2 linked regions of the Homo sapiens genome follow. The protein of the gene in region 1 interacts with the protein of each later gene in a pairwise test. Each region holds a gene or a part of one and is shown in the gene's direction. Other genes may lie near its edges. The genes, in order: RFWD3 and UBE2W.

Region 1 (3,827 bases):
TTCAAGACCAACCTGGCCAACATAGATCCTATCTGTATTTAAAATTTTTTTTAAAAGAAAGAAAAAAAGCTCTATAGGTAGTCACTGTACAGATTATTTTAGTTTTCTTCCTTGTTTTTACTCATTTGGTCCAACCAATGCTCACTTGTAGCGTTTTTAAATAATGGAAGATGTGTACAGAGAGGAATTTTGTTGAAAAGGCAAAATCTATACGTGTGGCTGTAATGGGTGATTATATTTAAAAACAATTCACTGATTACAATAAGGAATTAGTATACTCTCCAGCCTCATTAGAAAAAGTGAAGAGTTTCAAAATGCCGATACAGACTAATAAAACGAACAGCCTTTTACCCAATTTTATCAAATCTTAATGTTTTGCCATATTGCTTTGAGCCTTTTTGAAAATAAATAGGCTGGGTGTAGTGGCTCATGCCTGTAATCCCAGCACTTTGGAAGGCCGAGGCAGGAGGATTGCTTGAGACCAGGAGTTTGAGAGCAGCATGGGCAACATTGTGAGACCTTGTTTCTAATAAAAATGAAAAAAATTATCCGTGTGTAGTGGTACACACCTGTAGTCTCAGCTACTCAGGAGAGAGGATTTCTTGAGCCCAGGAGGTTGTGGCTGCAGTGAGCTATGGTCATGCCACTGCACTCTAGCCTGGGTGACAGAGTAAGAACCTGTCTCAAAAAAATAAAGATAAATCTGTTGACCAGGTCAAGAAGGAAAAAAAGGAAAGAAAATTTTAAAGAAGAAGAAGTTAATTATAGATTCAGTAGAAGGGCCAGGCACAGTGGCTCACACCTGAAATCCTAGCACTCTGGGAGGCTGAGGCAGGCAGATCGCCTGAGCTCAGGAGTTTGAGACCAGCCTGAGCAGCATGGCAAAACCCCATCTTTACTAAAAATACAAAAAATTATCCGGATGTGGTGGTGCGTGCCTGTAATGCCAGCAACTCGGGAGGCTGAGGCACGAGAATCGCTTGAACCTGGGAGGCGGAGGTTACTGTAAGCTGAGATTGCGCCACTGCACTCCAGCCTGGGCAACAGAGCAAGACTCTGTGTCAAATTTAAAAAGGTACACTAGAAGTCTTCCTGTGAACTAAGTTCTTAATTCCATAGAGAACTACTTTCATGAATTAGGTGTTCAGCATTCCCAAGAGTTATTATGTATTTGATTAGCTATATATGTATTTGTAAATTATACATAGTATGATATAGAAAGTTTTGTTTTGGTTTTTGGTTTCTTTGGTTTTTTTTTTTTTTTTTTTTTTTTTTGGAGACGGAGTTTTGCTCTTGTTGCCCAGGCTGGATTGCAATGGTGCAATCTTGGCTCACTACAACTTCCCGCCTCCCAGGTTCAAGCAATTCTCCTGCCTCAGTCTCCCAAGTAGCCGGGATTACAGGCGCCTTTCACCATGCCCAGCTAATTTTTTTTGTATTTTTAGTAGAGACAGGGTTTCACCGTGTTGGCCAGGCTGGTCTGGAACTCCTGACCTCGTGATCAGCCTGCCTTGGACTCCCAAAGTGCTGAGATTACAGGCGTGAGGCACTGCACCCGGCCAGAAAGTTTTTATACTGTATGCAAATGTTATGTTAGATTATAACTTTTTCTTCTGTAGCTTGCTTTTTTGCTTAATTTTATGCTTTGGGAGTATATCCTAGTTGATACATGGGACTCTAGTTTTTTTCATTTCAATTTCTTGATAATATTCTAGTTCTCTAGTCAAAATTAATCTGTTTAGGCCAGGCGTGGTGGCTCACACCTATAATCCCAGCACTTTGAGGGGCTGAGGTGGGCGGATCATCTGAGGTCAGGAGTTGGAGACCAGCCTGGCCAACATGGTGAAACCCCATTTCTACTAAAAATACAAAAATTAGCCGGGCATGGTGGCACGCACCTGTAGTCCCAGCTACTCGGGAGACTGAGGCAGGAGGATAGCTTGAACCCAGGGGGCAGAGGTTGTGGTGAGCCGAGGTCGCACCATTGCACTCCTGCTTGGGCAACAATGGCGAAACTCTGTCTTCAAAAAAAAAAAAAATTATCTGTTTGTGTTTTACATTGGTAGACATTTAGGTTGTCTCCACTTGTTAATATTAGCCATGCTGCAGAGAGGTCTAGCAATGGAATTGCTTTATTATAGGGCACATTTAATTTCAGCTTTACCTAAATATTGTCAAATTACTTTTCTAACTTAAACTTTTCTTGTTTAAAAAAAAAGGAGAGATTTCTCATTTTTTCATACCTTTGTGAATTTTATTTATTTTGAGACAGAGTCTCGCTCTGTCGCCCAGGCTGGAGTGCAGTGGCGTGATCTCAGCTCACTACAACCTCCACCTCCCGGGTTTAAGTGATTCTCCTGCCTCAGCCTTACGAGTAGCTGAGACTACAGGCACCCGCCACCACGCCTGGCTAATTTTTTGTATTTTTAGTAGAGACGGGGTTTCACCATCTTGGCCAGGATGGTCTTGAACTCCTGACCTCGTGATCCACTCACCTCGGCCTCCCAGAGTGCTGGGATTACAGGCATGAGCCACTGCGCCTGGCCAAAAAATTTTTTTTAAAGACAGGGTCTTGCTCTATCACAAAGGCCAGAGTGCAGTGGCGCCATCAGATTCCTAGGCTCAAGCAGTCCTCCAACCTCAGCATCCTGAGTAGCTGGGAGTACAGGCGCATGCCACCACACCTGACTTATAATTTACTAAATAGTATATTTTTCTGTACAAATTTTCATTGCTACTTCTATCCTTAATTAAGTTTCCGGGCGGGCGCATTGGCTCACGCCTGTAATCCCAGCACTTTGGGAGGCTGAGGTGGGCGGATCACAAGGTCGGAAGTTCGAGACCAGCCTGACCAACATGATGAAACCGTGTCTCTACTAAGAATACAAAAATTAGCTGGGCGTGGTGGCACACACCTGTAATCCCAGCTACTCAGGATGCTGAGTCAGAAGAATCGCTTGAACTCGGGAGGAGGCGGAGGTTGCAGTGAGCCAAGATCACGCCACTGCACTCCAACCTGGGCAACAGAGCAAGACTGTTTCAAAAAAAAAAAAAAAAATTAAGTTTCCATGTATGAATGGGCTACAGTAGTCCCCCCTTAGCCACAAGGAATACATTTCAAGAGCCCCCAGTGAATGCCTGAAACCGTAGTATGTTTTTTCTTATACATACAAACCTAAAGGATAATTTATAAATTAGGAACAGTAAGAGATTAACAATAATAAATAATAAAATAGAGCAATTATACCAGTATACTATAGTAAGTTATGTGAGTGTGGTCTCCATCTCTCTCTCAACATATCTCGATATTTGTAGGTTGTGGTTGATCACAGATATCAGAAACCATGGAAAATGAAACTAGATAAGGAGACACTGTACTCTTTTGTTCCACAGTCTTTTTGTTAATTCTTTCTCACATATTCCAAGCTATAATTTATTGTAGCTTTAATATATGTTCCCCCATTTTGTTCTGCAAAAGTATTTTTTTGCTATTTTTGGCATTGTTCTTCATATTAATTTTTTAAAATTAATTTGTTAAGTTCCATGAAAAACACCTTTGGGATCTTGATTGAAATTGCATTAAAAATTATTATAGGGTAACTTGAGAAGTACCATCTTTGTGATAGTCTTTTCAGTCATGAACATTATGTAATATCCTTCCATTTGTTCACTGTTTTCTTGTGTCTTTCACAAGTGTATTTTGCTTCATAAAGATCCTGCCTAGCCTTTTACTTTACAGTCACGTGCTGCATAATGACCTTTGGGTCAATGACAGATTGCATATACGATGGTGGCCCCATAAGATTATAATGGAGCTGAAAATTCTG
Region 2 (3,399 bases), on another chromosome or scaffold:
ACTGGGAAAAGGAGAGATCCAATTCTTGTTCTAGTCCTTGGCACATACACTCTCTGGGTTTTGAGAAAAGGATGGTCCTACAACGATTCTAAGTTGTTTTCTCATTGGTCCTACAACAATTCTAAGTTGTTTTCTCAAAGGCAAAAGCATGATTTCAAAATGACATCACTTGTCAGATTTTCTGGTGTATGGAAAGATTTAATAATCCTGCCTCTTTTGAAGCCTGAAACTTACAATTTAAAGCCTGAAATCTACCATAAGGAACTTGGTAAATTGTGTCAGATACCATGAAAATGCATCTTTTCATAGTTAACCACAGATTGTTTATGTAAAGGCAAATTGGTGGTCAGGTTCAAGGTAAAATGGATTATTGGGTTGATTAGTAGCCAAAAACTAAATGCATGTTCAGGTCAAAATGAATTTGTTTGTTTTAGTTGGTGCCATTTTCCTTTTATTATTCAGAACTACAGAGTGTGCATTTTATTAATAGGAATGAAAGCTCATGCTTGAGGATTTGAATAGGGTGGATGTATATATTTTATAAACTCAAGTTGCAAAATATGTAAAGTCACTACTTTTTAAATAGAATATAAATGTTAAAACAGACAAATCTATGTTATATATTTTTTAATACATGTATCAGACTTGTTAGTTGAATGCAGATTACTTTGCTTTATGGAATTTCATAACTTTTAATAATAAAGCAGTTGTTATTGGATTTTTTCTGTAGACTTGAATACTAAATGGGATAGATACCAGACCTCTTTTTGGTTTATGACGTAAAAGTATTTGTACAGTAGTTTCTCTTCACAAAAGACTGAATTTTAAAGGATTATAGAAACAGGAACATGTCCATTTCCAAAATGAGTGCAACAGAATGAAGATAGTCACTTAAACCATCTATTTAACACATCACCTTTATGTAATATGTAGCTAGTTTTAGTGTTTTAATAAGTCCCAACTAAAGACTGAGTGTTTTCAGTGAAGATGGAAATGGAGACCCAGGCACTTGCTTAGAGTTATCGTGAGTCCGATGTTCCTGAACTTCAAGTTGTACAATTAAGGGCATACTCTAAGAACTTCTGGATGCTTTCTGGAGTATACAAACAGATCAACTAATGACTTAAATGAGTGACTCTTGAAGCTGCAAGAAGAGGAAAGAAATAACCACAAGAAGGGGCTATCTCAGCATCTGTTATTCCTGACAGGAGGAATTAAATATGCTCTGCTGGTAATTCTAAGCTTTTCTGCAGGGGATCTGCTTGCCCCAGGAGCACCTTAGTCCTCATTGAGGCAGCCATTCTGCCATAAAAACGATCATGTCTCAAGCTGTTCCTGCCGTCCTACACAACTATGTTAGTAGATGGTTAGATAAATATATGAACCATCTTTTGTACTTTGATGATGCCCTTTTCCTTTATTATAATCCTTAATTTCTACTTTCCATAGTAGGATTTGACTTTTCTCCATTAGTTTAAGCTACCCTGGATAAGTGACTCTGTTTATGTCCTCCCTATATTTCTTACTCATTTTCACACTAACATAACACGTAACAAAATTAAACATAAGCTAAATTGAAGAAGCAAGTGAGACAGCTAAGAGTTTTGTGTACTTGGACAACAAAGCTCAAAGCCACTGTGGTTATCTGTCCTGTTGGGAGCCCCTTTCAACCATTTTTTTAGTTGCCTGTAAGATTTATTTTTAATGTTTGCCTGCATAATGCAAAATACATAAGTGGGAATCCCTACGCCCTTTACAGTTAAGTGGATTATGGAAATAATAAGGAAAGTTTATCAACTAAGGTAGGAAATATCTTCTCATGTCTGTATCTGGCCTTCAGGGACTTAATGTGGGTGAATATATGTCATTAGACAAGATCCTAATATAGATGGCTGTATCCTGCAGATAGCCAATTCAACATTAAAATTTTATGTTTCCATACCTCAATGAAAACATATTTCTTTTATCCTGTTATAATTTAATGACATTCCCATCCAACTTAATCAAGCAATGATACTCAGTAGTCCTCTCCTTGCATTTTTCAAGTCCTGTTGAGTGTAACTTTAAAATGTCTCTGAGATTTCTACCTTCTCTCCAGTCTCCTTACCATTAGGGCCTTTCACTACCTGGCCTTGGTGTCCCTAGGCTGCTCTTCAGCTGTCCACAAACCTTGTTTCATAAGCAGTAGCAATGCAAGCTTCCACTGCCGTCTGCTAATGTTCTTCCCTCCTAGAATGTTCATGATCTGCGTTTCTACCTGAAAGGTCTAGTTCAAAGGTAGCTGAAAGGTTATCATCCTTGTCCTTTCTTCTCTCCCTACCAGTCATCTATCCTGAACTTTTTAACAGTAGGGACAGTGTTGCAATTGTGTTTGTGTCCCCAGCACGTAGCACACAGTACCTAGTATACAGTACCTGTAGCACATAGGCATTTAATAAGTGTGTATTGAATTAACTTGGTTATGCTTGTATTTTTATCCTAGCTTTCTCAAAGAAACTTAGGTGCTAGCTATTTTGAAACATATATCCAGAACCACCACCTGAGTAAAATGTATAACAGGACCCTGCTCTTTCTATCCCAGAGAGTTTGAGAAAACTACTTTTAAATAAATCATTAATCATTCTTCATTGGTTTTGGCTTTTTTTATAGGTGTTTCTCATATCTTTATCTCTGAGGCAAATTGCTTGTCACAAATTAATTGTTTTAAACTAAATACATCTCAGGAACCATAAAATCATAAAGGTAAACCTGACATAGAGTTTAAAAACCAGCATTAAGCAGATAATTATTGTGTGCCTTTCATATGCCAAGAAGGATGGCAGATGAGGTATATATCTTCAAAGGGCATATGTAATAAGGGAGATAATAAATAGAAAAGCATATCATATAAAATGTGACAAGCCTTAAGAGGTGCAGATAGTTTCTGATTATCAAAGAAACATGTCTGTGAAAAGTACTGTCATGCATAAAGATGGGCCAGGCACAGTGGCTTACGCCTGTAATCCCAGTACTTTGGGCAGGTGGATCACGTCAGGAGCTTGAGACCAGCCTGGCCAACATGGTGAAACCCCGTATCTACTAAAAATAAAATAACGGCGTGGTGGTGGGCGCCTGTAATCCCGGCTACTTGGGAGGCTGAGGCAGGAGAATAGCTTGAATCCGGGAGGCAGAGGTTGCAGTGAACTAAGATCATGCCATTGCACTCCAGCCTGGGACAGAGCGAGATTCCGTCTCTAAAAGAGAGTGGATGGGTGCCAGGGTTGGAAAAACTACATATTAGGTACTGTGTTCGCTATCTGGGCGATGGGTTCAATAGAGCCCAAACCCCCAGCATTAGGCAATGGATCTGTGTAACCAACCTGCACGTGTACCCCCTGAATTTATTTTCTTTAATACTGT

The links.
Region 2: the proteins of RFWD3 (region 1) and UBE2W interact in a two-hybrid assay, tested with the Homo sapiens proteins (one large-scale study listed by BioGRID and IntAct).

Annotation. Positions count from the first base shown.
Region 1 is NC_000016.10:74,639,377-74,643,203, reverse strand, and holds part of RFWD3 (E3 ubiquitin-protein ligase RFWD3), read left to right. Parts: intron 1-3,827. UniProt on the Homo sapiens protein: E3 ubiquitin-protein ligase required for the repair of DNA interstrand cross-links (ICL) in response to DNA damage. Plays a key role in RPA-mediated DNA damage signaling and repair.
Region 2 is NC_000008.11:73,785,447-73,788,845, reverse strand, and holds the end of UBE2W (ubiquitin-conjugating enzyme E2 W), read left to right. Parts: 3' UTR 1-2,627; downstream 2,628-3,399. UniProt on the Homo sapiens protein: Accepts ubiquitin from the E1 complex and catalyzes its covalent attachment to other proteins.